4 separate regions of the Homo sapiens genome follow, and regions 1, 2 and 3 are each linked to region 4. Evidence: fine-mapped expression QTL. A gene starts in region 4. Each other region holds a variant in brackets. All regions are shown on one strand. Distances are between the middles of the regions.

Region 1 (8,107 bases), 57 kb before region 4:
GGATCACTTGAGGCCAGGAGTTCAAGACCAGCCTGGCCAACATGGCAAAAATTAGGCGTGCTGGCGTGTGCCTGTAGTCCCAGCTACTTGGGAGACTGAGGTGGGAGGATCGCTTAAACCCGGAGGCAGAGGTTGCAGTGAGCTGAGATTGCTTATAAAAGGATGCAACCTAATTAAGTCTGAGAATGTATCCCTTTTGCCTCTAATAGACTAGTCACCTGTCAAGCTCGATTATCTAATCCAAATACCTCCAAGTGCCCTTCCCACTGACTCTGCAAACTCTGCTGGAAACACAAAGCCTAGTAGTAAGAAGGAAGACAGAGGAATATACAACATACAGAACAGGAATAGTGCACAAAAGGAATGCACCTTCCTGGTGCCTGTGTCCCATCACTCCTTGGCAGCGGTGGGTACGCTGTGGCAGGAGGCCATACTAGGAAGAGGTTAGGAACTGCAACATTTTATTTTACTCTCACTTGTAAACAGTCACTGACAACGTCACTGAAGATGCTCAACGGTCACTCAAAAGGCATCCTTTAAATGGCAGACAATCCAACTTGCCCATGGACCGGTGAAAGGATAAAATGTGCTATATTCATACCATGGAATATTATTCAGCCAAAAAAAGGAATGGGGCACTGATACATTATACAATGCAAATGAACCTTGGAAACATAATGAGTGAAAGCAACCAGACACAAAAGGCCACATACTACATGATTCCATTTACATGAAATGTCCAGACTAGGCAAATCCATAGAGACAGAAAGCAGACTGGCGGTTGCCAAGGGCTGGAGGGAGGGAAGGAATGGGGAGTGACTGCTAGTGGGCACAGGGTTTCTTTTTGGGGTGATGAAAATATTCTGAAATTACATAGTAGTGACAATCAGAGTCTCTGAATACACTAAAACCACGGAATTGTACACTTAAAGGTGGTGAATTCTATGGTACGTGAATTATATCTCATTTTCAAAAGGTATTCTTCAGTTTAGCACTTCTACTGCCTCTTAAGTCCCTCAGTGCTCAAGACCAAAGGGCCTGCTTCCCAGGGCACCCAGGTGCTATCCCTTTAATCTTGCCCTATTTATGACGTCAAGAGGAAGCGATCTTTGAGAAAGATTAAGGGCTCACACTATTTTTGTTTCATCACATAGTAGCAGGGAAAGGAAAAACATAAAATCAGAACTTCAGTGTAATCTTTGGTCAATCAAGTTAAGGCAATCCATGATGTGCCTACTGCAATAAAAGTAAGCTGTTCAATCATCCTGGGGCAGTGTACACCATAGTTTTATTGTTTTTTATTGTAGAGACGGGGTTTCGCCATGTTCCCCGGGCTGGTCTTGAACTGCCAGGCTCAAGCAATCTGCCCTCCTCAGCCTCCAAAAGTGCTGGGATTTTTTTTTTTTTTTTTTGAGCTACTTCTTTGTCTACCAGATGATGAACTGTATATAGTATTTAAATAGTTCTGAATCTTTGGCTGGTACATTTTGAAGAAGATAAACCATTAATTCTTATCAAGATTCATTCATCTTACAATACAGGAACTGTGTTAAGATACAAAATAACAGATGGTGCTAGAGAACCAGTGGTAGATCATTCAAAATAACTAGTTCTGATTTTTAAAAAATCAGGAGCTCGCCTGTAGTCCCAGCTACTTGGAAGGCTGAGGGAGAGGACTGTTTGAGCCTTAGAGTTTGTTTCCAGTGTGGGCAACACCACAGGACCTTGTCTCTTAAAAAACAACAACAACAACAAAACAACAACAAAACTCTGATGCCTTTCTGTTTCCTCCATTAACTATTAAATACATCCCTATGTGCAGTGCTGGAATCTTCAGTTTGGCACACAAAATAGAACACTCATCCACAAGTCTGTAAGAACAAGGAATACTGATTCTCTTAATCTGCCACTATTGACTCTAGATTGTTATCTTAAACTCACTTGGGGTTACCAAATAGTCCACACCTGCCTTTACTGTGGAACGACTATTTGGTCAAAGAAAAATGCTCAGGAATTCAATGAAGCCACAAATTATCAACATGAGTTATCTGTTCATAAACAATGACTTAGGAAGAATTTATAACGTTGTGGGGCATAGTCATCATGTCACCTTGTCACACCATGCACAGCAAATCCAGGAACAGCAGGCACGAAAACACCAGGTAGATGAGTATTCGAGTATAGGTTTGAATAGCATCCCTACAACTAGAGTTTGGGGTGTGTGTGTGTACGTACAGTTTTAGGGAGAGGAGAGGCAACAAGGGTGTTCTACCACTGAGCTCTTTCACTTTTATAGAATGATGCTTTAAAAGGAATCGAAGGACACTATGATAAGGATGACTTGAGTGGATGTAACCTGTGAGCCTCACATAACAAACCTGGAATACTGGCTCTTGGGTTCTAGCTCAAGCATCACACTTACGAAAAAGAAATGTCTAGACTCAGACAGAAATAAAAACAAATCTATAAAGAATATCATGTAGTCTATTCAAAATTATGCATGGCAAGAGAAACATTAAATCTCCAGATATTACATCAGATATATATTATACCCAAAATTAAATTCCTTGTAAACAAATCCATTTACATTGAACTCATCATTATATATTTGAGTATATATTTGTAAATTGAACCCGTCATTATGTATTTGAGGTATGTATTTGTAAATTGAAGCTGTCATTATGTATTTGTGACACCTAGATTAACACATGACACCATGTATAAGAACACAGTGCCATCTACGTCTATGCCTCCTTAGATGGTGCTTTATTCGAATCAGAAAATTAAACAGCATGAGTCATCTTAATGTTAACCCTAGTTCAAAAGCAAATGTCACAAGTTTAAAAACCTCGACTAATTCAAACACCCAATTTCAACCAATATTTTACTTTTCCATCAGGGTTTTACCAAAATTATTAATGAAAAGCAAAATGAACATATAAGAGTTTTCTTTCTTTCCCCTATATTATCATTTGGGAACATTAAAAAGAAGGGTAGAGAAACAGAAGCCTAGAAAATTTACAAACTAGATAATACTATATAATCATACTAAATGTGTATATACTATTAAAAATACACAAAAATACACACCCCCTAAAATATCTCAGGTATAACAAGGGACACTGTGCTCCCCTATAAAAGATACTCCTATGGTATTTTCAAATGTGTTTTCTCAAAATAATTAATCTAGAACCTCTTATTCCCAAACCCAAGCCTCTGTACTGTCCAAGACAAACAAAAACCAACACAATGTTCTACTCTGTAATTTGAAACACATCTTCTCCTTCTGATGTCCTTCCAGTGCTTTTCTAAGGTAGTCATCTGAGCAGCTAAGCAGGTACTCCCGACATCTGAAGAGCTTTCAGTCTATTATAGCCTCATTACAGCTGACTCTTGAAAAACATAGGTTTGAACTGC[A/G]TGAGTCCACTTACACAGGATTTTGTTCTGCCTCTGCCACCTGAGACAGTAAGACAAACCCCTCCTCATTCTCTTCCTCCTCAGCATACTTCCATGTGAAGAGATGAGGATGAAGACCTTTATGATGATCTACTTCCACTTACTGCATAGTAAATATATTTTCTCTTTCTGGTTTTCATAATATTTTCTTTTCTCCAGCTTACTTTATTGTAAGAATACAGTATATAACACATATAACACACAAGATACGTGCTAATCAACTGTTTATGTTATTAGTAAGGCTTTGGTCAACAGTAAGGTATTTAGTAGTTAAGTATTTGGAGAGTCAATTTTTTTTTTTTTTTTAGAAGGAGTCTCACTCTGTCACCCAGGCTGGAGTGCAGTGGTGTGATCTCAGCTCACTGCAACCTCCACCTCCCAGGTTCAAGTGATTCTCATACCTCAGCCTCCTGAGTAGCTGGGACTACAGGCATGTGCCACCACACCCAGCTGATTTTTGTATTTTTAGTAGAGATGCGGTTTCACCATGTTGGCCGCGCTGGTCTTGAACTCCTGACCTCAAGTGATCCGCCCACCTCAGCCTCCCAAAGTGCTGGGATTACAGCACTTTTGAGCCACTGTGCTTGGCCCAAGTCAAATGTTATATGTGATTTTTGACTGGGGGTGGGGGCGGTGGGGAGCGTGGGTGCCCCAAATTGTTCGAGTCAACTGTATTTGAAAAACCTAATACTTTAAAAAAATTCATTCTAATTACACTGCTAAGGAGACGCTGGATAAATTTAGCTGTCACTAAATAGTAAGATTTATAGACTTGTTTTATTTCTGCTTCCCTGACAACTACTTTTTTTTTTTTTTAACCTAACTAGGCAGGGGATGATAATCAGTAGCTGTTGCTGTGCTATAATTGAAGACCAAATACCTTAGTTGCTTCAAGAACTCCACATCAGAGTTGCTGTTAATGAGCTTGATGAAGTCCTCGTAAGAGGGGGCATAGGTGTAGGCTCTCTTGTGATGCTCATTCATTTGCTCTCTGTACGCCAGCTGGGCAAGCAGCATTTGGTTAATGTAATCTGGATTACTCAGTAACTCCACTACCGGCTTCAAGACTACAGGAAGAAGAAGAAATAGCCACTGAGAAAGGTATTCTTCTTTAAGGGAACTGTTTATGTATCACATAACTGAGACTACATTTGGGAAACATTTTTCAAGTAGTCAAACAGGGGAATATCTATATAATACAATAAACAATTCAAAAATGTACACACATGCACACATACAGCTGCCTATCCCTCCAAATATGTTATCATCCATGGCTATAATCAAGTTGTCATTTTAATAAATAAGTGAAATGTAAAAGAATCATGAAGGGAAGTCATTTGGAACTCAAGTTGCTAACAAATCTATCAAAATTAAGGCCGGGCGTGGTGGCTCACACCTGTAATCCCAGCACTTTGGGAGGCTGAGACAGGTGGATCACTTGAGGTCAGGAGTTTGAGACCAGCCTGGCTAACATGGTGAAACCCCAATCTCTACCAAAAACACAAAAATTAGCCATGCATGGTGGCACATGTCTGTAATCCTAGCTACTCGGGAGACTGAGGCAGGAGAATTGCTTGAACCCGGGAGGCAGAGGTTGCAGTGAGCCGAGATCTCGCCACTGCACTCCAGCCTTGGCGACAGAGTGAGACTCCATCTCAAAAAACAAAAAACCACAAAATTACAACAACCAAAAAAACACTGATTTTTTTCTTTTACTTATTTTATAAGGCTCAATACGTTTTGACAAGCTTAGTCTGCCAAAGGATGAAAGTCAACATTCTCCCCAACTGGTTAAAACAGACCTCAGAGAGGAAGTTAAAAAGTCAATGACACTATTACAAAGCCATCCTTGTAACTTGAGATTAGAAACTTCCTCTCTTCTCTGTGGTTGGTTATAATAGCTGATGGGCACAGCTGGCTTATCCTGAGATAGTAAATGAGATAATCACTGCATCTCAAATGCAATGCTATTTGTCTGAGACTGAGATAGGGAAAGTTTCTCTTATCCTGACTAAGCATTTCCCTGGATATAGTTAACTTTTTTCTAGTAATCACATTATATTGTGGTACAGTTCCTTTTTACATATTCCAAGTTCACAAAATTATGTACAGTCATGCGCCACATAATGACATTTTGGTCAACAACAGACTGACTATATGACAGTGGCCCCCATAAGATTATAATGAAGCTGAAAATTTTCTACCATTTAATGAGGTCAAGCTAGTGTAAAGAAACCTATTGCACTGTCAATAGTATAAAAATACAGCACATACAATTATGTACAGTGCATACTTGATAATGATGATAAATGTTATTACAAAAGAGTCAAAAAGTTTAAAAAAATTAAAAGTTCATAAAGTAAAAAAAGTTATAGTAAGCTAAGGTTAATTTATTGAAGAAAATAAAATTTTAAATAAATGTAGTGTAGCCTAAGCGTACACTGTTTATGAAGTCTGCAGTGGTGCACAGTCATGTCCTAGGCCTTCACAGTCACTCCCCACTCACTCAGAGCAACATCCAGTCCTGCAAGCTCCATTCATGGTAAGTGTCCTATATAGGTGTACTGTTGTTTATCTTTTATACCATATTTTTACTGTACCTTTTCTATACTTAGATACACAAATATCATTGTGTTACTATTGCCTACAGTATTCAGTACAGTAATATGGTATAAGGTTTATAGTCTAGGAGCAATAGGTTACACCATATTGCCCACATGTGTAGTGGGCTATCCCATGTAGGTGTGTAAGTACACTCTATGATATTTGCACAATGACATTGTCTAATGACACATTTCTTCGGACACATCCCTGTTGTTAAGCAATGCATTACTGTATACGCATTATCAACAAATCATATAGCAAAGATATTTTAAGTAAATATGCTAATCAGAATTTGACTGTGGTCAGGGATGGTTGCTCACACCTGTAATCTCAGCACTTTGGGAGGCCTAAGTGGGAGGATCACTTGAACCCAGGAGTTCAAGACTTGCCTGGGCAACATAGTAAGACCCCCATCTCTATTTAAAGAAAAAAAAAAGAATTTGAACACACACACACACGTAATATATAAACATACATACTATGGATATTATATAGATATTATACACACATACACATACTTTCATTAATGTATATATTATTGGCCTAGATAACTCAAAAGCTATCCCAAATGAATGCTTCCCTGTGAAGAGCATAAAAACTTGTTTTCTATGTCAAAACATGCAACTTAATGGACTGTGCATTTGGCGATATGTCATATTAAAAATTTAAGTTTATCCTGAATGGCCAAATAGTTTTAGAGACATATAAACAAGATTTTGAAAATACTTCAAATCCCATATGTTCAACAGTAAACAAGGTCTGCATGTAGCACATTAGTTTGCACACTTATTGAATTAGTGAAATCAACTGTATAAGTCTACCTTTTGTTGTGAGAATTTCTGCAAGCATTATACGTAAGCTGAGAGACTGCACATCCTTTGAGGGGAGGAGACAAAACACCAGAACCCGAGAACACGTTTGTAGAAATCTTACTTCATCATCTGAGTTCCTCAAGCATGCGTGCAACACAAAAGGTCTTGGCTGTTCTTCATGTCTAAATAAAGAGAGTGAAAAAGAAGGAAAGAAGTTTCTAGAAACAATTCAATTATGTACTATTAGGTAAAAAATATTTCAAATGAGAAACACATTGGTTATAGTAACTGCCATCTCCTAAATAATCAAATTTCCTCAACCATCAACTCATCTGGAAAACTTTTGCTAGAATAAATGCAAATGCATGGCCTTTTTTGGATTTCAAATGAAATCATAACAACGAACTTCAGTAGCATCAAAGGGTCTATATAACTCCAAAATCACAGCAACAATCTAAAAAGGTACGAGTATTTATTTAGTAATTTTTAAGTCTTCTAGATGTTTTCTTAAATATGACCTGCAGCTTCATTTTTCAAAAAAACCTAACAAAGCATAAACCAGGGTTGCCAGCCTGCTTTCTGACTGGGAGATAATAGGATAAAAAGTCTACAGGTATTTCTAGTGAGCTAGAGGGTCTATAAACTCGACGTTATCTAATTTGATGGCAAATTGCCTTCTGTGAGGCTCCAAAGTATTTTTCAACCAGTCTTGACAACCTTGGTTGTGCACTTCCCTGTACTGACTCCATCCCAGGAACATTAATTTGGAGGATCTGAGTGAAGAGGACTGGAAAACAGAACTTTCTATACTTCCCTTCCCATAGTATCTTGATAGTGATTCAAGAAAGCCTGGGATGCTGCGTTTTCTAATATGTTCTAGATGAGGAGGCAAAGTATAAGAGATTTTTACAGTAACTAGTAGCTAACAATGAGAAAAAACATGAAGCAGAGGGAGAGAAACATACTAGGTACTGCACAGGAAATGAAACTAGTGCATATTAGTACCTTTAGGACCCATGCCTCTCAGGTGTTAACTGAAATTTATTTTGCACTGGAGACTGAAACTAGTTTCTAGAGTGTATAACGCTAGAAAAGAAAGGTTTCCTCTGTCTTGTACAACCTGAAGGAATTCTATCCTAATGTGTAAAGCCAGCAACATGAAAGGAAATTTTTAGAATAAGCCTTTATGCATATACTGATACGCTGACTTTTTAAAAATGGCATCTTCAATTATT
Region 2 (8,107 bases), 130 kb before region 4:
TAAAGAATTCTTTAAAGGATACAAATATTCAGAACATTTTTTTTCAGTCTCAGAATGTCTAGCTTCTACTGCAGAGGCAAAACATGTTTTATGAGGCAAAGTTCCATGCCTCTGAGAACTTCAGGGCTTTAAGATCCAAAGTGTGATTAACAATTATACTCTGAATATAGATGGTGCAGCAAAGGAAAAAAAAGTGGTTGTTATTGAGGACAGTACACCTTTGGCCTTATTATTTAAAAACAGACTGATAGAAAATAATAAAGTGTTTAAAGGAAATTAAGAAAATATCTTCAGGGCCTTGGAGTAGGCCAAGATTTCTTAATAGGTGCAAAAGGCATTAACCATAAGATAAAAAAAATGATAAAGTGGGCTAAATTAAAATTGAGAACATCTGTTCATTAAAAGCAATCATTAAGTAAAAGGCAATCCATAGAAAGGGGGACAATATTTGTAGCACGTAAGATCTGACAAGGAACTCAGATCCAGAACATGGACAAACCCATAAAACATTATGGAAAGGATGAGCAGCAGCACAATAGAAAAGGAGACACAACAAATGGCCGGGCACAGTGGCTCACGCCTGTAGTCCCAGCACTTTGGGAGGTCGAGGTGGGCAGATCATCTGAGGTTGGGAGTTTGAGACCAACCTGACCAACACGGAGAAACCCCGTCTCTACTAAAAATACAAAAATTAGCCAGGCGTGGTGGCAGGCGCCTGTAATCCCAGCTACTTGGGAGGCTTAGGCAGGAGAATCACTTGAACCCGGGAGGCAGAGGTTACGGTGAGCCAAGATCGCGCCATTGCACTCCAGCCTGGGCAACAAGAGCGAAACTCCGTCTCAAAACAAAACAAAACAAAACAAAACAAAAGAAAACAAAAAAAAACACCAAACCCCCCAAACACAATGAGATACTACTACACCCAAAATGGCTAAGAATAAAAACGCAAAAGATAAGTGTTGGTGAGGATGTGGAGCAATCAGAACCCTTACACACTGCTGGGGAGAGTATAAAACTGCTGTGACCATGAAGAAAAATGGAGAAATCCTAATCTCTGGGCATCAGCCGACAGATATTTGTCAAAAGACAAGTACTAGACGTTTATATAAGCACCCTTTGTAAAAGCCTCAGAGTGGAAAGGAGCCAAAGGCTCATCAACAACGGAATGAATTTGGAATGCAGTGTATTCACACGATGAAAACCTCTCACAGCAACGAAAATGAATCATCTACAACTAAGATGACAGGATGGATGAGTCCTATGAACATAATGAGTGAAAGAAGTCAGAAACGAAGGAATTCACACTATACGGTTCCATTTATATAAAGTTGAAAGACAACTGTAACTGATCTATGGTGCTGGAAGTCGGGACAGCAGTTGCCTTTAGAGGGGCTGCAGCGATGGGAGGAAGCTGGGGGCTGCTGGTGATAACCAGTGCATTGGACTGGGTGCTGGTTACATGGGTGTGTTCAGTTTGTGAAACGGAGACAGTTATACACTTACGTGTATTTTTATATGTGTATTTTCCTTTAATTAAAAAAAACACCCAAGATATTTTTTTAGCATCTAGCATGGCTTGTGAGAACAAAAAGCAAACTACCAAGCTCGTAGAATGATGACAGTTTAACCCTAAATAACTAATTTTTTCTCTCATATCCCACATTTTTCACTTGCTTACCTGTAAAAACTTATTTAATTGATTCTTCGACTTTTCCATAAACTTTTGATCTATAGATTTGAAAGGCAGCTTGCTAAGAGAAGGCAACTGGACTTTTTTTAAAGAAGGGACGCACTGTGGGGGGAAAAAATGAAATGTTAGTATTTTGAAATTACATTTTAATCTTAAAAAAGATTTAGAATAACAATTAGAACAAAACAAATATCCTCCTCCTGTACTTGTTCCTCTGAGGTGAAAACCTACCCATCTTAATGAGGCTCGAAGAATTGGGAGGAACGGAAACTTTGATGGAAAAAACTAAAGCACATCCCCAAACCTACAGATCCCCGGGAGCTGGGAAGTCACAAGGCCAGGCTGGTACGAGGGATCTGCACACCACGCAGGGTGGCACATGATGTGACAAATGGAAACCTGGCTCACAGAAAGTTTTTCAACTAGAAGGTGTTGTGTTTTTAACATCTCTGTAAAAAGCTAAAGTTAACAATAGAAAATGGCCGGGCGTGGTGGCTCACGCCTGTAATCCCAACACTTTGGGAGGCCAAGGAAGCTGGATCACATGAGGTCAGGAGTTCAAGACCAGCCTGATCAACATGGTGAAACCCTGCCTCTACTAAAAATACAAAAAATTAGCCTGGCGTGATGGCACATGCTTGTAATCCCAGCTACTGGGGAGGCTGAGGCAGGAGAATCGTTTGAACCCAGGAGGTGGAGGCTGCAGTGAGCTGATGTTGCACCACTGCACTTGGGCCTGGGAGACAGAGTGAGACCCAGTCAAAAAAAAATAAAAAGAAAAGAAAACAATGGGAACAAAGAAAACTTGGGTTGTAGCTCTATTACTGCATTTCTTTCCTTTTTTTTTTTGAAACAGGGTCTCAGTCTGCCACCCAGGCTGAGTGCAGTGGCGTGATCATGGCTCATGGCAGCCTTGATCTCCCAGGCTCAAGCGATTCTCCCACTTCAGCCTCCCAAGTAGCTGGGACTACAAGCATGCACCACCATGCCTGGCTAATTTTTAAATTTTTTGTAGAGGCGAAGTCTATGTTGTCCAGGCCAGTCTCAAACTCCTGGATACAAGCGATCCTCCTGCCTCAGCCTCCCAAAGTGCTGGAATTACAGGCATGAGTCACCACTCCTGGCCTTATTACTGCCTCTCAGTGGCAAACTGTAGATTGTAAGTATATTAACAAAATATATTCATAGTACGAAGAGCGCACCCTTTGTGGATTAAGTCCTCCCTTCTACCAGACACTGTGCTAGAAGCATAGCATGTGTTATTTCATGCTTACAACAGCTCTGTGAAATTTCAGAGAAATGAAACAGGCAGTGAGAGTTGGAAGGGAAGACTAAAATCACTAAGTACCCAAAAAGGTACTTCCTGTCACAGCTGTCGACAGGAAGGGTTCTCACAACAGGAAAACTCACACCGTAGGAAAGGGCAGGGGTAAGAGAATAGCCCAGCCATCAGTCCACAGACGAGGAAAGATGACAAAGAGGACGGGCATGGACTTTCATGTTTGTTTCTTTTAATGCTTCCATCTAATTGTTTTGATTGTCTAAGTAAATTCTACCTTCCAAAGACATTTCATTTCAAAATTTTCCCTCAACTCTTTTTCCTCCTGTTTTGATACAAACTTTGGTTTCACAATAGTTTTTCCACAGAGAAAACAACACATTTTTCTGTAGTATCAATTTTACTCAACAACTCTGGGGAAAATTCATTGTTATACTGAGACAAATTTTTGCTTTCCACAGTGCTAAGGTGACCAAAGGCCATCTGAGAAATGTAGCATGCATGACATTCAGTTTGGGTCACTATCCTTAAAAAGCAGTTGAAGAAATTATAGTATGTAGTGATGAAAACAGGTTAAAAAATCACTCTGGAGACAAGGTTAAAGAAAAGAGACACATTTCATTCATAGAAGAGGAGTCTGAGAGGTGCCCATGAGGTTTTGTAAAGGAGCAGCGTGGCTTCAAACCGTGTTTTCAAACTTTGTTTTCCTTCCTCCTTCCTCCTTAATCTCAAGATGTAACTTTGAGACAGGCTGCGTATGTGTTTCCTTTCATTCTGAAATACAGCCTGGGCATCTGCTGTGAACCTCCACTCCCTTTCTTTCCCCATCCCGTGCTCCCATGCTTTATGCACACTGATTTACCCACATGCTTGTTAAGCGCACACCACGCTCCTTATCTGGTCATCTATTTCCTTAGAAGCTTCAAGGGCCAGATCCTGATACGGACCAGACACCTCTGGCCACAGTGGCGCCGGATGCTTCACCAGATGGAACAATAATTCAAGACGAGCCATCAGGGCAGATCACACCATCTGACACTCCCTAGACCTGCTGCCTCTTCTGCATTCCAAACCCTC[T/C]CTTTAAAATCCCCTGGGTTCCCTCCACAGTTGAAGGCTGGAAATTTTTATTTTTATTTTTTGGAATGGAATCCTGCTCTGTTGCCAAGGCTGGAGTGGAGTGATATGATCCTGACTCACTGCAACCTCCGCCTCCCAGGTTCAAGTGATTCTTTTGCCTCAGCCTCTTGAGAAACTGAGACTACAAGCGTGCACCACCACACCCAACTAATTTTTTGTATTTTTAGTAGAGATGGGGGTTTCACCATGTTGGCCTGGCTGGTCTCGAACTCCTGACCTCAAGGGACCCGCCCACTTCGGCCTTCCAAAGTGCTGGGATTACAGGCGTGAGCCAACATGCCTGGCTGAGGGTGGAAAGTTTTAGAAAGAATTTTGCCCACTCCTCCCCTTGCTAGCATGGATAGTAAAATCTCACTCTCTTTTTGTCACGCCTCACTCTTGTTATTATTATGATGGCTTCTTTCTACAAGCAGCAAGCAGCTGGACCCTTTGACAGTTATAGTTTCACCAGTATCAGTTCACGCTAAGCAAGAGAAAAATGGACCTAAATTCAAGTAGAAATAATTGAAGAACTGTTCACTGCTGGGGAAAAAAGGCAATGACCCATAGTAGAAGGAGAATTAGAGAAGATGGCAATTCCTGAGGAAAAGTAGGAAGAATAATCTAAAAGTAAGATTCCATTAATAATCTTGATTTAGCCACTATGTACATGTCCTATGACAAGTCAGTTAAGCTCTGGGATCGGTTTCCCTCCTCTCTCAAATAAAAGAATTAACCTAGATTAGTGGCTTTCAAACATTTTAACTGAAACTCACAGTAGGAAATGCATGCTACATTGCAATCCATAATGCACATACATATATACATATACATAAATAAAACTGAAACCAAAGGTCTATGAAACAATGCTCATTACTACTGCTACTACCAAAAAACACAATGATGTTTACTATGTGCCACACATTCTTATAAATGCTTTATATACATATATTCCCTTAATTCTCATAACAACCCCATAAGGTAGGCACTATTAGTATTCGTTTTCACTGATGAAAAAGAGACAAAAAGCAAGTGAGTGATAAATCCCAGGTCAGCTGGGCAAGGTGGCTCACATCTATAATCCTAGCTCTTTGTAAGGCCGAGGTGGGTGGATCACCCGAGGTCAGGAGTTCGAGACCAGCCTGGCCAACATGGTGAAACCCCGTCTCTGCTAAAAATACAAAAATTAGCCGGGTGTGGTGGCACATGCCTGTAATCCCAGCTACTCGGGAGGCTGAGGCAGGAGAATCGCTTGAACCTGGGAGGCGGAGGTTGCAGTGAGCTGACATCACGCCACTGGACTCCAGCCTGGGCGACAGAGCAGGACTCCGTCTCAAAAAATATATATATAAAAATAAATAGATAAATAAATAAATAAATTCCAGGTCACACAGCCATGAAGAGTAGAGCTGAGAGTCAGAGCTGAGCAGTCTGGTTCTAGAGGCTGTGCTCCAAGCACCGCACCTTACTGCCTCCCTTGTATATGTGATAGAATCCTCCAAGCACCGCACCTTACTGCCTCCCTTGTGTATGTGATAGAATCCTCCAAGCACCGCGCCTTAATGCCTCCCTTGTGTATGTGACAGAATCCTCCAAGCACCGCGCCTTAATGCCTCCCTTGTATATGTGATAGAATCCTCCAAGCACCGCGCCTTACTGCCTCTCTTGTGTATGTGACAGAATCCTCCAAGCACCGCACCTTACTGCCTCCCTTGTATATGTGATAGAATCCTCCAAGCACCGCACCTTACTGCCTCCCTTGTATATGTGATAGAATCCAATGCAGCTCATTCTTTCTACTGCTGCAACTCACAACTGATTTCACTACCATCAAGATATCACAATCGGCAGCTGCCAGTTGTGAGATACCTAGGTGATCCTTAGGTCTCTTCCAGCTCTAGGGTTCTCTGGCAATTTACAATGAAAATCAGACCGTTATCTGTCCTGATGGACTTAGGCTAGACTAGATGGTTTGATCTATGAGTAAATTTCCAAATGTCAGGATGAAAATGCCACTGTGCCAGTATCAACAGCAAAGGAAGAAGATTAATCAGCTTTCTTATGTGTAAAATTGAAATGAGCTCTTGTGCAGTAATTCTAGAATACTGCGTTCATGAGTATTCATACCTCACTGAGTTTCCGGTGTAAATTCTGAAACTCGCTGAGCCTTCTGGGGACCGTCCAGTTCTTAGTTTCAACTCCTCCAACTTCTTGTAGGCTTACCATGACAAAGTAACATGGCAATTGCTCACCATTCTCTTCTGTAACCTTGGGGAAAACATCAAAATCGATACTTACAAAAAGCATGGTGAATGGATGCAGAAGGAAGATCTGTAAGTGTCCCCCTAAGGAGATTTCCCTCCCCGTGATGTACCTTGCAGGATCCCTGGAACTGTGAATATTATAGATTTTATTCTAGTAACTAAGATACATTATATGGCATAGTAGACTAAAATAGGGGGATTTCCTGGGTGGGCCTAACCTAAAAGCAAAGAGTTTTTGCTAGCCAGTGATACGAAAGGAAGTCAGAAAGATTCAAATCCCAAGAAGGAAACCAGCAAGAAAACAGATATCTCAGTTCTATGACCAAAGGAACTGAATTCTGCCAACAATCTGAATAAGCTTGGAAGTGGGTTTTACTGAGTCTTCAGACAAGACTTTAGTCTGGGAAACATACTGACTTCGGCCTGTGATACAATCAGCAGGGAGCCAATGCATCCTGTGCTGGACTCCAGACCTACAGAGGTGTGACCAATAAATGGGTGTTGCTTTAAGCATGAAATGTGTTACACAGCAAAAGAAAACTATACAGCAGGCTCATCCTGTGTTACTTTGAAAAGAAATTAACAGCAAGCAAACAGCCATCAAATACATCAGAAACTCTCTCAGAGAAGGATGGGGGCACCTCCAGTTTAATTTCAGGATCCAACAAGCCCTGATTTCTATTCTCATTAAATTTTACATTGGGAGATATAATTTCCTTTACCTCCCAACTGAGATATTGTATGTGTGCATGCGTGCACACGTGCACATACACACACACTAATCCAGAATAGGCCACTACTATACTTAACATAAGAAGCTAAGAGAAAACAATAGAAAATACATTGAATTTGAGCTTGAATTAGCATCATAAATTGAATGAGAGAGAAGGAGTCAATAAGAAAGGCCAGGGAAAGAGATGAGAGGTTTACTGAGCACCCACTCTGTGAGGCAGGATTACCACCCCACTGTAAGGATAGGGAAGTAGAGGCACAGACAGGGTCCCTGACTTTCCTAGGACCACACCTCTGATGAGTCAGCTAGCACAGAATACAGGCACGTCCAGCTTGATGAAAATGCATCCTCCGCACCTTTCTGGGACTGCTTCGTGAGCTCTAGACGTCAGGTGCCCCTTTCCCATTTCCACTATCTTTTCACCAGCCAGAGTGCTTCAGCAAGCAGCAACTGACGGCCAGGGCACAGACCCTTGTGATGGTTTCCACTCCTTCCTTCCCTTTCTGCTCCCCCTAATATCTGCCTTTGGAAGATGATTTTAATACACTGTGAAGTGTCAGGGCCAGCTCTAAGCAAAACTGAGGAGGTAACAGAATTTGTATTCTGTCCTCCAGCAGCCTCTTGTAGCAGCTTTTGCCATTACATTCCCCTGAGTCCATTACCTTCCTACAGTTCCACCCAAACAGTAACTATCTGCAGTTACTGAGGGTTTCTATGTGGGAGTCTGAGGCTGGGCATGACCTTCCCTGATCCACTGCTCTCTGCCTTCCATGGAGAAATGTGTATTGTTCAGCAGCTTAGCTTAATGGGAGCACCAGCAAGTGCCAAAGACATACAGAAGGCACCTGGTTAGGCCCTCATGTACTGTGTGTCCCTTCAGGGTAGGTCTTGGAGAACATGCTTTGTTTTGCTATCCAACCTAGAGATAAATTTAAGGTCGTGAATTTTGACCCTCTCCCAACCCCTGTAAGAGTGTCAAGCCACTGGCTTGAGGGAAAGGCAGGGAAGAACAAAGATAAGCCATA
Region 3 (8,107 bases), 730 kb before region 4:
GGACAGACATCTGGATTTGACAAGGTGGAGAGTGTTGGTGACTATGATGAGAATGGTTTCACTGGGGGCATGGGGATGAAGGGCTTTCTGGAGTTGATTCTGGAGACAGTGGATGGGCGTTAAGAAAGTTGAGACAGGCCAGGCGTGGTAGCTCATGCCTGTAATCCCAGCACTTTGGGAGGCCGAGGCGGGCAGATCACGTGAGGTTGGGAGTTCGAGACCAGCCTGACCAACTTTAGGAGAAACCCTGTCTACTAAAAATACAAAATTAGCCAGGCGTGGTGGCACGTGCCTGTAATCCCAGCTACTAGGGAGGCTGAGGCAGGAGAATCGCTTGAACCTGGGAGGCAGAGGTTGCGGTGAGCCGAGGTCGCGCCATCGCACTCCAGCCTGGGCAACAAGAGTGCAACTCCATCTCAAAAAAAAAAGAAAGTTGAGACAGGAAGTGCAGATACCTCTTTGGAGAACTGTTCCTGGGAAGGAGAAGGGAGAAATAGAGCAGCAGTCAGAGAGGGACGTGGGCCAAAGAACACACTGTTTTTTGGTTAAGGTGGAAGTATTACAGCATATTTGAATGCTGATGGAACTATTCCAGTGAAGAGAAGGAAACTGATGATCCAGTGGGATATTAGGAACAATTGCACGGAAGAATTTGTTGAGGAATGGAAGAGGTAAAATACACTGTTGACAATGGGTCAGTTTGTCTGATGAGAGAAGGATGGACAGTTCAATAAAATGAGAGAGGAGAGAAATTTAGGTAAAATGGTGCATTCAGGGTGAAAAATAAAGTAATTTTTGTCAGAATACTTCTATTTTCTTAAAGTATATAGCAAGACCATCAACATATGGCCAGGGCGCAGAGGTTAAAGGGCTGAACAAAAGATAAAAAGGCACTGAGTATTCCTTTAGGAGAGAGAACAGGAGTATTTATCGGGAAATCTGTTAGAATCACCAGGCAGTTTTAAATACTGATTGAGCCGCGTAGTGATGTCTTTAAAAGTGAGACCCATCAGCACATTTGCATCCTTTTTCTTTGTTGCTTTCGTGCTTTGAAGCGGACATAATGTAGTTAGAGGGTTGAATGTAAACAGACTGGTGTATTGCCAGGCATGTGTACAGGGGGAGAATAGAGGAGCAGGGGATGAAGGCAGAATATGAAGGGACATTTGCACTGGTGGGTTCTGGCCTCCAGGCTGCTGGGGGGGAAAGCAGTTGTGGGGAGTGGTGCTGACAGGCGGGAAACTCATAGGGTTGGTGCACTGGGGTTCTCGGGGAGGTGGAACGTAACCAGAGTGTAGATACTAGGATAAGTTGCCTGGAATGATCAGAGATAATTATCAGAGTGGATGCTTTCCACTGGGATCTCAGAAATGGTCAAGTCTTGGGTGATGAATGGTGAGATTACAGAGAGCTTTGACACGCAGGATAAGAAGTTTGAGTTCTGATCTTCCTGAGCAAGTTGTTCAGTCTGGAGTTTGTGGACAAGTTTTAGAGCATGGAACTAGAATAAAAGGGTGTGTGTGTGTGTGTGTGTGTGTGTGTGTGTGTGTGTGTGTATGTGTCTACATTTTTCTGGGTGAGAGGATCCTAGGTTCCCCTAGATTATCAAAAGAATATCTGAACTACAAAATGTTAAGAATAATTTCTTGGTCAGGCGTGGTGGCTCACGCCTGTAATCTCAGCACTTTGGGAGGCCGAGGCGGGTGGATGACCTGAGGTCCGAAGTTCGAGACTAGCCTGGCCAACCTGGTGAAGCCTCATCGCTACAAAAAATACAAAAATTAGCTGGACATGGTGGCAGGTGCCTGTAATCCCAGCTACTCACAGGAGAATCACTTGAACCGGGAGGTGGGGGTTGCAGTGGGCCGAGATCATGCCACTGCACTCCAGCCTGGGTGACAGAGCAAGACCCCATCTCAAAAAAAAAAAAAAAAAAAGAATGATTTCTCTAAAACCTAGGAGGCAGGCAGCCACTGACAGTCTCTGAACAGCAGTAGTGGTGTGAGCTGCTATTTCCAAAGATGACACTGAGTTTGAAGGGGCAGAGAGGAGAAGATATTCCAACTCTGAAGAGATGTGTAATTCTCCACTTACATAGCACAGAAAGGAGTAGATGCTGGAGCCGACTCCACAGCACAGCACCTGTGGGGCTGGATGCCGGTCCCTGCTGAGGCAGCATCCCTCTTCACATCATTCTGTGTTCATTGCTTCCTCATTCCTCATTTCCCCCTCCCCTCCACTTCCAGCTAAAATAAAGTGGTTTTAATGAGGCATCACTTGGTGAGCTTTCGAATCAGGAGCCTGTAGGAGGACTGAACCAAGGATGTAGAGCCCTGCTAAATGCATCTTTCATCACTTTGGGGCAGGAGGACAGACCTAGAGGTACTTTTTGACGAAGGATTTAGTGCATTTGTTCCTGGGCTCAGGAAATATGGAGTTCTCCACTTCTGAAGTTAAGCACTTTAGTGCCCATCAACCTTAAGATTGAGGCATTATGGTGTCAATAAAGAGCAAAAATCTTGGATTCAGATACATGGCTAAGCAGCTACTTCATTTCACCCTAACAATAGCTCTGTTAAGAAAAATTGAACCTATCTCACTGTAAGAGTAAATAAACAGAAGTTTCAAGAAATTGCCTCACCCACGGTGAGACTGCTAGTACAATGCAGAACTTGATATACTTTTCAAAAGGTCACATGTATTTCTCAAAGCGTAGGAAACATGCTCCTCCAGTTCTCGTGAAGCACTCACTCACTCACTCACTCACTCACTCACTGGCAGAAGCACGAGATGAATGAGTTTTCCTTAAAATCGGGTTCAAGCACCAGGCTGACAGGAAACCATGTCATAATTAAAATCAGTCAATGTCATTGTTGAAATAGAATGACTTGTCATTCAAGAAGACAATTCTGAGTGGAATTTCAATTACATTTGGAATTAAAATAACTGTGCTATGTAATCTTTTAGAAGGTAGTCCTCTTACTGTCTAAGAAGCTGAATTTATTTTTTAAAACATTCTAATTAGGCATTCTTGAGGAATTTCCACCTTCAGTGAAACTGACAGCCCGTGCCATGCTGTGCCGTGCCGTGCATGCTGTGCTGTTGGTAGTGAGAGCAGAAGCTGAGTGTGGGAGGTGAAAGGAGACTCTTGCATAGTCTTAGAAGCAGACGGAAAGGGAAATCTTCTGTAAATTGCATTTCTAATCAACGTGATGACCATGTTTTCTAGCCCTAAAATTGGGACATGTGACTTGACAAAGAGACAGAATACTCAAAACTGGGAATGATCAGAAATATGGGATTTATGGTTATCACACTATTATCAATGGTGGCAAGGGTCAGCTTGAAGAATTCAGAATTAAAATTTAGATTAGATTTGAGGAAATTTACTTTAAAAATTAATTTCTGAATATGTCACACTTATGAACATTCAATTCTCTGTCTTGAAAGCTTCCCACCACCTCCTTCTCCTAAATATCCTGTTTGTGAGTTCCCATACGTACTTTATAACTTTGTGTAATTGATGGTTTCAGTACCCATTGCCTATGTGCAACTGCATTCAGCCTTTGTAGTTTTGGAACTGAGGATACTGCCCACTCTCAGTTGGCCATCAATAAATATTTGTTGCAGGGATGGAGGGTGGGTGAAACTGGAGCCAACCAGAGCCAGGATAAACCATGTGCCTTGGTGCTTTTCTTGTGAAGGCTTTATATTTACTTCTCTTCGCACAACTAAATATGGGACTAAGTTTGAATAGCA[C/T]GTGTCTCCTCATTGAAAACTTACCGTTGGCCAGGTGCAATGGCTCACGCCTGTCATCTCAGTAGTTTGGGAGGCCGAGTCGGGCTAATCACTTGAGCTCAGGAGTTCAGGACCAGCCTGTCCAACATGCAACATGGTGAAACCTCATCTTTACAAAAAACACAAAACTTAGCCAGGCATGGTGGTGCACACCTGTAATCCCAACTACTCAGGAGGCTGAGGCAGGAGAATCACTTGAGCCTGGGAGAAAGAGGCTGCAGTGAGCCGAGATCATACCAATGCACTCCAGCCTGGGTGACAGTGAGACCATGTCACAAAGAAAAAGAAAACATACCTGTTCACTACTCTCCCACTTAATTTTCAAAGGCAGCCTGTGTCTCTTTTCCACATTCTCCCATGATGCTCTGTGTTACCAACTACGGCTCTGATTGATTATTGGTGTCTCTGTGGAGAGTAAATCATGTTTTCCACCCATATACATATCTCAAAAACAGCCCACCGTTCTAGGTTTTAACTGGACAGCTTCAAATTGGTGATAATTAGCCCTATCAATACCCTAGTTAAAGTTGGTATGTCTAAAGAACTAGTTCTTGGGTACTAACAATGGCTACTCATGGTAAAATGTTGGCCTTTTGGTGGAGTTTGTTCTAATGATCTAATGTCTTAATATTGCTATAGCACTTGGAATAGTGCTGGGACATAGTGAGAGACATTTTTGTGTTTGCCATTATCTTGCTTTATATCTCAACAAGCTTATGGGGGCAGAGAAAACTGATGCAAAAGTCAAGGAGTCTCTTAAACGTGTTATCTCCCATGGCTTAGTTTTGAGTTTCTTGTTACAGATAAGTGATATTTAAGCATAAAATAATAAATTTAAAATGTGGTATTGATAGCTGAGACTCAGCCCCTTTATGGTGGGACAGAAGCTTGTGGAAATAGTAGATACTTGGGATTGAACCCCTTGTGCCTTAAGGACCAGAAAAACTTCTCAGTTATTGAATTTGGATCGGGTTTTACTAACTGATACATTGCCTATTGGTTTGTGGGTACAAACTGTGTTTCTTTGGATTTTTCTTAAGAACTGGGGAAAGAGCTACATTAGCCTTGATTGTTGGCTGATTTTGATATCTGTAATGATTTGACTTGGAACAGAAAGGCAGAACATATTTCATACATAGAAGGTACTATCCAAAACACCTAAAGTGCAAATTATGGAGAAGCGACCTGACTCAGTAACAAACTATCCCGAAGAGCCATGATCAAGCATCTTCTCCTTGAGCAGTCTAGGGATGCACAGAGGGGGCCACAGAACAGTGTTTAGAAAGACAGACCCCGTCTTGAGTATCTGATTAGAGTTGAATGTCAGCAACTGCCTTGATTTCTCTCTCATTTTTTTTTTTTTTTTGAGATGGAGTCTCACTGTTGCCCAGGCTGGAGTCCAGTGGTGCAACCTCAGCTCACTGCAGCCTCCGCCTCCCGGGTTCAAGCGATTCTCTTGCCTCAACCTCCCACGTAGCTGGAATTACAGGGGCCCGCCACCATGTCTGGCTAATTTGTTGTTGTTGTTGTTGTTGTTTTTTGTATTTTTAGTAGAGCTGGGGTTTCCTCATGTTGGCCAGGCTGGTGTCGAACTCCTGACCTCAGGTGATCCACCTGTCTCGGCCTCCCAAAGTGCTGGGATTACAGGTGTGAGCCACCGTGATTGACCAAAATTTTTTTGTTCTTTAATATGTAAAATCTCATATTGCTTTGTGGAAGGGTGAGAGTTTTCTAAACAAAAGCAAATTGGATGCCTTTATTCTAGAAGGGTGTCTTCATTCTGTTTCACTGGTGAGTGCAAGCCTTTGCGTGGCAGGGACAGTGCCTTATTCATGTTTTATCCTGAAGGGCTTACAGAGGTCACGCCATGAAGAGCGGTTCTGAAAATCATCTGTGGAATGAATAAATGAATGAAAGCAGGAAAGGCTCTTGTCCTCTAGATTGTTATTCAAACAGTGTTCGAATTGCTATATTATCCAACAATGGCATGCGGGAAAAGACATGAGGGTTAAAAGAGAAATCAGTCAGCAAAAGTGCCAACCAGAGAGGGACTTTAAATGAAACCTACTGGGAAAAGTTGACGGATGTGTCTTCCCTAAAGATTTTATTTTTTCCTATGGGGAAAAATGCTTTGAAGGAAAGACTTTTGATTGAGAACAAAACCACAGTCTCTGGAAAGTGTGCAGCTTAGCAGGCCATCTATAGAGAGACTTTAAAGCCAGTTGGAGGTCAACTTATGTTCCTAAGCTCTGTAATCTTTTCAAGAAGGGTCTTCATATCAGGTGGCCTACTTTCACTGAAATGCCACTGATATTGGCTAAATTCTGTTTCCTTTCCAATTCATATTCTGAAGTCTTAACCTCCAGTACCTACGTATGTGACTTTTTTTGGGAAATGAGTGGCTGGTAAATTAACAGATTAGGTAAGATTAGGTCATTTTGGAGTGGGGTGGGCATTTGATCCAATATAAGTGGTGTCCTTGTTTATAAAAAGGGGAAGTTTGGACATGGACACACGCGCAAGGGGAATACCGTGCAAAGATGAAGGCAGAGATCCAGGTGATGCGTCTACAAGCCAAGGAAGCCAAAGACGGCCAGCAAGGGGAAAGGCAAGCAACAGACTCTCCCGCACAGCCTCAGAAGGAACCAGTCTGCTATAACCTTGATCTCAGGCTTCCAGCCTTCAGAACTGTGAGATAATGCATTTCTCACAGGATGCATTTCTCACAGGATGTTTAAGCCATCCTGTCTGTGGTACTTTGTTATCACAGCCCAAGCAGACGAATAGACCCACAGATGATTCAAACACTGTTGTACTTTAATGGTTACTGCAAAATACCACAGTTCACGATGATTCTACAGCGATACTCTAGAACTGCTGTAACGTTCGAGTAGACATGAGATCACTGGGTGGATTGTGTTTTTACCAACATATGAAACTGTAATTATCCATGAGCACCGTACTGCCTTTGGAGACACTGCTGGGACTGTGACTCAGACCTCCCTTGAGACAACTGGTCATTAGGAGTCACAGTGATGTGGAATCAACTTTGTCTTTCTGAAAAGCTGGAGATATTCATCATAGCCTGGACTGCCTGGGATCTACATGTTTTCTCCGTGTTGTAATGATGTGAAACACTTTATTAGCAGAGGAAGACATTTTTAGGAGAAGCATTTTGAATCAGAAGGCTTAAGAAGAATTCTGCTTTTCTCGTGAGTATCAAGTAGTTGATTATTGAGAACTGAAAACATTGTAGAAGGATAATTTACAAAATGACCCTTAAACATCTGCATTTATCATGGAAGATAAAAGTCTAGAGAAACTGTTTTTTAGCTGCTAGGAAAAGCTGTGTTTTCTTCAGAGGGTAAGTCATAGAGAAGGATCATGGTGTGGCCAGGGCAACCGAGCCCCAGGGGGGCTCATCCGCTTTAGGCCAGGCCCTGCCTACAGCAGTTTGCAGAGGCTGGTCTCAGATGCTTGCCAACAAATACAGCCCTGCAATGCAGTGACATTGCATTCCGGCAACTCTCTGTTCTCTTCATATTTTCTCATAAAATCTTGGCTCTGGCTAAAGAGAAAATGCCGTGCGGTAGGCTTAGCTCCTTAATGGTGAGGTGTTGATTTGGTATAGGTCTGTTTTCAGCCAACCCAGTACTTAATGTGTGGGGATTTTGTTGTTGTTAATGATAACAGTATTGTCTGGCCAAAAAATCATCCTTGCCATCCAGAAGTAAGACTATCATCGAATCACGCCACTTCTGCTTGCAGACAAGCAGCAGTGGACATGTCAAAACCGTGTGTGGTTATTAAAAGTTGACTTAACACCCTACTCTCTACCCTCCACTGTCCTTTGCAAGATTTCTTCAGTATATCAGGGGATCCATCCTTTTTTCCCTCCACTGCCCCCTTCGTAGCTGCCCCTCTGACAAATGCCTCCTAATCCCGCAAGCATTGCTGTTCAGCTGCTTCTGAGTCAGCTCATTTCCTCATGATCTTGGGGCCCCTTCCTCCAAGTGGTTTACCAAGGTGTGTGTTTATTATGTGTATATAATAAACACACACATATATAAATAAATATATAATAAACACACACACTAAATATATATCTGTATCTATATCTATATCTATCTATATATATATATATAGAGAGAGAGAGAGAGAGAGAGAGACAGGTTCTTCCCTTAAGATGTACTCTAGGGCAATCTCATATAAGAATTCTTTTCCACACACTTTTACTCACTTTCTCTTAACTCCTGTAAACTTAGAGGCTAGACCATTTACTTACATGTCCTTGTTATCTTTCTTCTCT
Region 4 (8,105 bases):
ATGCCCAGGACACCCAACTTCTGTGGACTTCTTGTATCAGCCCTCCAATCCTCATTGGCAACTGCCTATTTATTTTTTAACTTAGGAGACATAAATAAGAAGTCTCTAAGGGCTGGGCATGTTAGCGGGTAGATGAACTTGCCCTACAGGGAGAGTCTGCTAAAGGGGAGATAACAGGCTATATTTGCATTTCTAAAGGGGAAGTGGGGAACTGGGGGAAAAAGAAGAGAGAGAGAAATAATTAAACCATCTCTTAGGAAAGTAGGGGTACTCGGTTACATCACGGTCAGGCCACTGCACTGCAGTCTGAGCAACAGAGCGAGACCTTGTCTAAAAAAAAAAAAAAGGATCTAGTAAACCACAGGGTAAAAAGAAAAGAGAAAAATCTGTATTAGACTACACAACAGAAAAACTGACAAAGTTATTCTCTTTTACCTTCTTACCATCAAAACGTAAGAAATGGTGTCCTCTTTTCCACTGTGAGAAGATGTACTTTGAATTGCTGATCTTATGATGATAGTAAGTTTTTCTAAACTATGGATTCATTCTTGCCCTATTTCTCTTGCTGTTGTTTTGATTGGATCAAGTGCTGGGGTCAAGTAACTGTGGCTAGTAAATCTGAGGCTCAGACCCAGGTGAGTTAACTGGCCTGGCAGAAGATAGAAAGACAACCTTGGACACGGGACACCACACTCTGACAACCCACACAACAAAGCTGGACTCACAACTGTCAACCCCAACAGCAGGCTGGCCCTAGAGCATCACAGTTCCGCTCCGCTCTGCTCACCTGTAACAAGAGTCCAAGTTTTTCTAAACTGGGATCCAGATATCATCTGTCAAGACTTCAGCAACAACCTTCCTGACCTTCACAAAACCTTCTGTGCTATCTGAAGATACCACGGAAGTCTGGGATGAAGTTTCTATCTGAGATGAAAATTATTTTTACAACTTTAATCAACAGTGATTCTCATCCAAGTAAATCAAAATCCATGTACATAGGAGATGCTCAACAGGTACAAGCTCAATTGGAAGGGAAAAGCACTAAGTTAGTGACCATAAATGGACATAACGTTCTTCACCATCATCAGCGAACACTTCTTGAGCTCCTGCTAGGTGTAAGTGATAACAAAAGGTGTCAATTATAGGTCCTAACCACAGGCAGTTTACACTTGATAACTATTACACTATGAAGTATTCAGAAGCATTTGAAAACCTCTAGACATAAAAACACCCTTTCCCTTTTCAGTGAGGTTTCTCTAGTTGCCTATGTTTAACAGTGTATGCATTTTTTTCCTCTACCAAAAGAAGTCAAGAAGAAAAAACAAGGGAAGGAAGGATATACAGCTAGAAGGACTGATCCCAGTGTCTGACATGTCTAGCTCACACTAGGAGAACTCAAAATATATAAGGATAAATGAGGATTCTCTTCTTCACGCTGAATCCAAATTTGTGTAGCAGTCACTGTTATTCTAAGGAGCTCCATTTGGTTCACTGCTAAACAGCCTCCCCCTCCACATATGTTAGCTGACCTGTGTGGTCCAGCTCCCACAGCACTGACTGTAGATATTTTATACTACACCACATGCTTCTGCTTCCCACTCTTCCATTCATAAAGAAGAGAACATTTAAAAAGCACACACAGCCAGGCACGGTGGCTCACGCCGATAATTCTAGCCCTTTGGGAGGCTGAGGCAGGAGGATCACTTGAGGACCCTGTCTCTACAAAAACTTAGCCAGGCGTGGTGGCTTGCACGACAGAGCAGACCCTGTCTCAAAGCAAAAAAAAAAAAAAACACACACACACACACACACACACACACATCACACAAATTATTGGAAATACAGCACTAGAGGCTTGAGTAAACAGTACCAGTACTACAAAGAAAATAGAATTTTATGTGAATGACATGTATTTCAGTTCTAAGCAATATATAACTTAGAATGTAATTTCCTAATGCACTTAAAAAATTTAAAAAAAAATTTTTTTTTTTTTAAGAGGCAGGGTTAGGCCAGGCACAGTGGCTCACGCCTGTAATCCTAACACTTTCCGAGGCTGAGGAGGGCGGATCATTTGAGCTCAGGAGTTCAAGACCAGCCTAGGCAACATGGTGAAACCTGTGCCCAGCCCCTAATGCACTTAATTTCTTATTTAAGGCTATTTTAGGAATTCAAGGACAAAAATAATTACCAATATTCATTTTCCTTAGATTATACTTCCCCTCTTCTATTACCTGAAATCTTCGGGTAGTATTCATGAGAGATTTATACATGCTGCTTCATTTTCTCTGTCACCTTTAAAATACTATTTTCTCCAACTCCTCTACTAAACAATCTTTCTAGATGATAATCCACGTTTTACCTACCCAGAGGTGCCAGTGAGCTGGGAGATTTGCGGGAATGCATTTTCCAGGAAACAGAGTGCTAACCCACAACAGGAGGCTTTCAATGCCCTGGGAGATGGTCTGCAATACCAGGACTTTGATCTTGACCTAACCCTCTAAACTTCCTTCCCTCACCTACTAGTCCCTCTTCATCTCTTACCTCTTAATCACTGTTTCAAAAGCATTTATCACTATCCCACAGTATTTATTTATTGCCTGCTCCCCCATAAGATCTCCAGAGAGCAGGATATTTATGTGTCCTGTTGATTCAAACTCAGCTTCCAAAACAGTACCTGGCTCACACAAGATGCTCAATAAATATTTACCGAATGAATTATAACATCTTACAGTACTCAAGAACTAAGACATATTTTATTGATCAACAAACAAACTAGTAAAATCTCAGGGTCCTTACTTGCCATGGTAGAAAAAAAGAGGAGAGACATATCTGCTCCGCAACTCCTGCTAAATGAGATATGAAAAACGGATGGCTAAGTGGAGATTTTGTAAGAGAAACCAACTTTACTAATTTTTGAGACCACTTCTAAAAACAGGAGTTGCCTGCTCCTTAATATACTGCCTTGTTTATCAGCCTACTGAGCGAAATGTCTGTTACCTACTAATGCCTTCCGCCATTATCTCAGCGCTGCATTCTGAACTAACACACTCAGAGTAGTTTGGTGAAGTGTGGTGCTTTCTTTTAAAATAAAGGAGTGAGCAGGTCATGTGATAAGCAAATACAAACCCTGGGGACAAATGATCATTAACAAATATTCTTATGAAGTTGAGCCACTGCCATTTATCTTACCCCAAAGCGCTTGGGCAATTTCATTAGAATGATGGTATCACTCAGTCAAGCAGTGAGTGTTAAGCTGGGATAGAATAAAGTTCCCTTTAAAGGATTATGAGAAGGAATGTGGAAGAAAGATGGGGCAGTGGGTTTGGCACTGAAGAAGAGAAGCGCTCATTTAAAACACTGTTCTTTCCTACATTCCCTAACCCCCGCCCTAGTGTCCCACAGCGCGCTGAGGATGGCTTTCCTTTTGTTGCAAACCAGTGATTTCTGGCATCCCCCTTCCAAATCACAGAAGCCAGCGGGGACTGCACAACTATAATACGTATCCGCATGGTGGAAGGCAGGATAGGGTGGTGGGAAGGGTACGCGGGCTTGGGGGTGAGGCGCTGGGCCAGGGACCGAAGCAAGTTTCCTCATCGGCAAACGGTCATAAAGTTGCCTCCCACCGAGAACGGCCAGAAGAACCAAGCGGATCGCCAGGACCGTGCGCAGAGCCTGCACGTAGCGAACGCTGTGATTCCCTTCTTCCCCTCCCACGGCAAGCGACACCGAAGGTCTGGGGACACCCTTAGGGTTGTGACTGAGGATGGTTGTCGAGTGACTACAGAGCCCAGTAAATAACGCGCATCTCCTCCAGCACCGCGGAGCGCGGAGCCCGGAGCCCGGAGCCCGCCGCGCGCGGGCGCCGGGGAACGCTCGCGTCCACGGCCGGGCCCGCAGCCCAGCCCCCTGGCTCCCGGCTTCCCGCTTCGACAAGGGCATGCCGCGGCCCCCCGGAGCTCGGGGCGCGGGAGCTGGCACCGGAAGCGGGGAGGGCCGGCGGAGCTGGGCGGCCAGGAGTCGGGTACTTACCCCCGGCGGGCGGCGGGCGGCTGAGGTCGCGGCCAGCCGGCTCCAGGCGGCGGCGAAGTCGGGCGGCTGGGCGCGCGGGCTCCGGCAGACGAGGGCAAACAGGATCCCCAGCAGGAAGGCGGCCGCCGCGCAGCTCAGGTACAGGCTGAGCCTGAACAGGACGGAGCTCAGCCCCGCGGCCCCCGCCGCCTCCCCGCTGCCGGGCCCCAGGAAGGAGAGGGCCACGGCGGCGAGTGCGGCCACCGCCACGGGCTTCCACCAGCTCCGGCCGCCCGGGGCCCCCGGCGCCGCCGCTGCTGCTGCCTCCGCGTCCCCCGGGGACTCCGGCCGCCGCTCGCCCCTGAAGCCCGAGACAGGACGGCCGCCGGCGCCTGCGGCCCGCGCGGGGCTGGGGCCGGCGCCGCCACTGTCGGTCGCATCGGGGTGCATGCTGCTTCCTGGGCCGCTAAGGACAGGCACATCTCCTGCCCCCCGGTCCCCCGCCGGCGCTCCGGAGGCAGGGGGAGCCCGCGCTCATGCCTCGCCCGCGGCCCACCGAGGGAGCGGCCCCCGCAGACGCCGCCGGGCCCCTCTCGGCGACCCCTCAGCGCCGCCACCAGGCGCTGGGCCCGTAGCTGCCGGGCCGGGCGCAGCCAGGGAGCCCCACCGTGTTGTGACTGAAGCCTGGCCAGCCTGACGCGGGCGGGGCGGGGCCGCCCTGAAGTGCGTGTCGGGCGGGGCCCGGAGCCACCGCGGCCGCTGAGTGACAGCCGGGAGGCGCCCACCCACAGCGCGGGGGCGGGGTCCGGGCCGGGGCCCCACGGGGAGAGGGCGCGACCCAGCGCGGTGCACACCTCTCTTTCCCACGCTCCCCTCCTCCTCTACAGGATGCCGTCTGTTCATGGAAAATTTTGCTGCAGGTGTCAGCGGCGCTGGTAATTCCTGAGCTCAGGTGATCCCGTAATTCTCCCTCTCCGCTCATCACTGACGAGTAACCTCTTCGCTTTGCTTACAGCCGGCAAACATTTCTGCCTGGTTTTCACTCGCTATTTAAATAGGCAACCGTTCCCGAGACTCCCTGTCACAGTTTCTAACGACCTTCCCTTTCCCACCCTGCCGCCTTAGGGAAGGAATCAGACACGTGCGGTGGAGTAAGTGAAGCCTGCAATTCCTAGCTATGGAAAGGTCCAAAGAAGTCGGCCTGGTGCAACAGGGTGCACGCAGCTGCCCATAATCACTTTGGCTCCACTTCTGGTTTTTGTTTTGTTTTGTTTTGTTTTTTGTTTTTTACCAACTATTCAGTTCAAATGCTATCAGCCACGCAAAGGAACGTGGTCCAAATAATTTTTAGAGTATATATTTGCCTTTTCTTCTGTCATAGTCCCAGCCAGTAATATACAGATAACGCTTGCTAAGTAGATGCCAATATGCTACTTAAACACTGGCAATTACTGCTAAGACTAATAAAGAAGCAGATGTAGCTTTTGCTTTTAGTATCAATTGGTATTCATGGGCATTTCATTCTTTCTTTCTTTCTTTTTTTCTTTTTTTTTGAGACGGAGTCTCTGTTGCCCAGGCTGGAGTGCAGTGGGGCGATCTCGGCTCACTGCAATCTCTGCTTCCTGGGTTCAAGCCATTCTCCTGGCTCAGCCTCCCGAGTAGCTGGGATTACAGGCACGCACCACCACACCTAGCAAATTTTTGTATTTTTAGTAGAGACGGGGTTTCACCATATTAGCCAGGATGGTCTCAATCTCCTGACCTCGTGATCCGCCTGCCTCAGCCTCCCAAAGTGCTGGGATTATAGGTGTAAGCCACCGCGCCCGGCCTCATTTCATTCTTTCTTAAACCTTCTAAGTCAGAAATGAAGAGTGCCTCATGCTAGATGTGACTTTGCCATGCCAAGGGGATGATCAAAATAAGTTACCAGTTTCCTTTCTCCTCCTTTTTTAAGAAAATAGGGGCGGGCACGGTGGCTCACGCCTGTAATCCCTACACTTTCGGAGGCTGAGGCGGGCAGATCATGAAGTTAGGAGTTCAAGACTAGCCTGGCCAACATAGTGAAACTTGAACCCCGGAGGTGGAGGTCGCAGTGAGCCGACATCGCGCCATTGCACTCCAGCTTGGGCAACAGAGTGAGACTTCGTCTCAAAAATAAAATAAAATAAATAAAGCAGTATGATTAATTTTGAAGAAGCCCTTTTGCCTCTAAAATAGTTGTTAATTTTCACCCAATTGGAGCCCCTCAAAGTGTACCCTACCAACCCAAATTATTCAAATAAAGCACAGTGGCTTGTTATCAACAACAACCAAATCTATGTTTTTTGATCATTTACATGCCGAGGACTGTATTCTGAATTCTTTATGATAAATTTAAATTAATTTTTCAATTTTAGCCCTAGCTCACCATAATAGTAACTAACAGCACTTACTGTGTGCCAGATACTATTCTAAGGACCAAACATACTTCATTTAATCTTCCCAGCAACCCCGATGGATACCATTATCTCCATCTACACAGCGGGGAACTGAAGCACAGGAGGTAAGATGACATGCTCAACATTGCAAAGCTAATCAATAACAGAACTAGGATTTAGTTGTTACTCCATGTGGTCCAGCTTCAGAGCTTGTGCATTGAATCGCTATGCCATGATGCTTCCTAAGAATTCTCTGATTTACTCATCTCATATTACAGAAGAGAAAAAAAAAGGTTAAATTCTTGATCCTGATCTGCATTCCATGCTTAAAAGTGGATAGTTGGCCAGGCGTGGTGGCTCAAGCTTGTAATCCCAGCACTTTGGGAAGCCGAGGTGGCTGGATTACCTGAGCTCAGGAGTTTGAGACCAGCCTGGTCAACATGGCAAAACCCCGTCTCTACTAAAAATACAAAAAATTAACCAGGTGTGGTGGTGTGCGCCTGTAGTCCCAGCTACTCGGGAGGCTGAGGCAGGAGAACGGTGTGAACCTGGGAGGCAGAGCTTGCAGTGAGCCGAGATCGCACCACTGCACTCCAGCCTGGGCGACAGCGAGACTCCGTCTCAAAAAAAAAAAAAAAAAAAAAAAAAAGTGTGACTGGTTAAATTTAGGTGTCAATTTGACTGGATTGGGATTACCTGGAAAACTGACAAAGGATTATTTCTGGGTGTTTCCCAAGAAGATTGCCCCTGGGTCAGTGGATTGAGTAGGGAAGATCCACCCTTGATGTGGGCAACCGTCCAATCAGCTGTGGCCCAGAAAGAACAAAAAGGTGGTTTCCTCTGTGCCCTGAAGCTGGGATACACTCTTCTCCCATCCTTGGACATCAGAACTCCAGGCTCTGGCGTTGAGACTCCAGGTTACACTAGCAGCCTCCTGGGTTCTCAGGCCTACTGCCTCAGAGTTATGCCATCCTATTCCCTGGTTCTGAGGCCTTCAGAGTTGGACTGAGCCACACCACCAGCTTTCCAGGCTCTCCAGCCGGCGAAGGGTGTATCATCAGAGTTCTCAGCCTCCATAATCATGTAAGCCAATTCCTCTAATAAATTCCTGCTCATATATCTATCTATATCCTTTTGGTTCTGTCTTTCTGAACCAAGATTAGTACATCTTCCATTCTTTTTTTTTTTTTTTTTTTTTTGAGACAAGAGTTTCGCTCTTGTTACCCAGGCTGGAGTGCAATGGCGCAATCTCGGCTCACTGCAACCTCCGCCTCCCCGGTTCAAGAGATTCTCCTACCTCAGCCTCCCGAGTAGCTGGGATTACAGGCATGCATCAGCATGCCTGGCTAATTTTTTGTATTTTTAGTGAGATGGGGTTCATCGGGCTGGTCTCAACCCCCCGACCTCAGGATCTGTCCACCTTGGCCTCCCAAAGTGCTGGGATTACAGGAGTGAGCCACCATGCCCGGCATACATCTTCCATTCTGTCTGTCCTGCAGACCATCTTAATGTTGTTATGTGGACCAGAGGCGCACAAGTCATGGGCTGAATAATATTCCATTTTATGTATCTACTACATTCTGCTTCATCTGTCTGTTGATAAACAAACACTTGAGTTTTTTCCGCCTTTTGGCTATTCTGCTATGAACATGGGTGCATAAGTATCTGTTTGAGACCCTG

Direction of the effects. Alleles are on the strand shown, and positions count from the first base shown. SD is a standard deviation of normalised expression in the study named. Not every link is listed here.
For the expression in prefrontal cortex of the gene that starts at base 4,687 in region 4, allele T in region 3 goes with a higher level than allele C (large effect, 1.2 SD a copy in ROSMAP).

The links. PIP is the estimated chance that this variant, and not a neighbour inherited with it, causes the effect. A credible set is the group of variants that fine-mapping cannot tell apart.
Region 1: its variant is the best candidate, but not a certain one, in a credible set for the expression of SNX25 in whole blood (INTERVAL, PIP 0.51).
Region 2: its variant is the best candidate, but not a certain one, in a credible set for the expression of SNX25 in tibial nerve (GTEx, PIP 0.78).
Region 3: its variant is the best candidate, but not a certain one, in a credible set for the expression of SNX25 in prefrontal cortex (ROSMAP, PIP 0.56).

What each region holds. Positions count from the first base shown.
Region 1 is chr4:185,263,385-185,271,491 of GRCh38, reverse strand. It overlaps SNX25 (sorting nexin 25), which reads right to left. Exons shown (of 19, transcript NM_001378034.2): 4 at 6,882-7,054; 5 at 4,337-4,523. Among named protein-coding and RNA genes, the nearest start is that of SNX25, 58 kb to the right of the region's middle. RefSeq lists an enhancer at 5,113-5,614. The variant A/G (reference allele first, on the strand shown) is at 3,418.
Region 2 is chr4:185,340,222-185,348,328 of GRCh38, reverse strand. It overlaps SNX25 (sorting nexin 25), which reads right to left. Exons shown (of 19, transcript NM_001378034.2): 12 at 6,213-6,353; 13 at 1,679-1,792. LOC124900827 (a long non-coding RNA gene) reads left to right here and starts at 6,342. Exons shown (of 3, transcript XR_007058416.1): 1 at 6,342-6,418. RefSeq lists enhancers at 6,025-6,144, 6,525-6,574. The variant T/C (reference allele first, on the strand shown) is at 4,047.
Region 3 is chr4:185,931,839-185,939,945 of GRCh38, reverse strand. It overlaps a transcript of SORBS2 not described here. Among named protein-coding and RNA genes, the nearest start is that of SORBS2, 120 kb to the right of the region's middle. The variant C/T (reference allele first, on the strand shown) is at 3,760.
Region 4 is chr4:185,206,180-185,214,284 of GRCh38, reverse strand. SNX25 (sorting nexin 25) reads right to left here and starts at 4,687. Exons shown (of 19, transcript NM_001378034.2): 1 at 4,030-4,687. The coding sequence starts at 4,458. It also overlaps a transcript of CFAP97 not described here. RefSeq lists an enhancer at 86-405 and silencers at 3,879-4,068, 4,139-4,298, 4,409-4,988.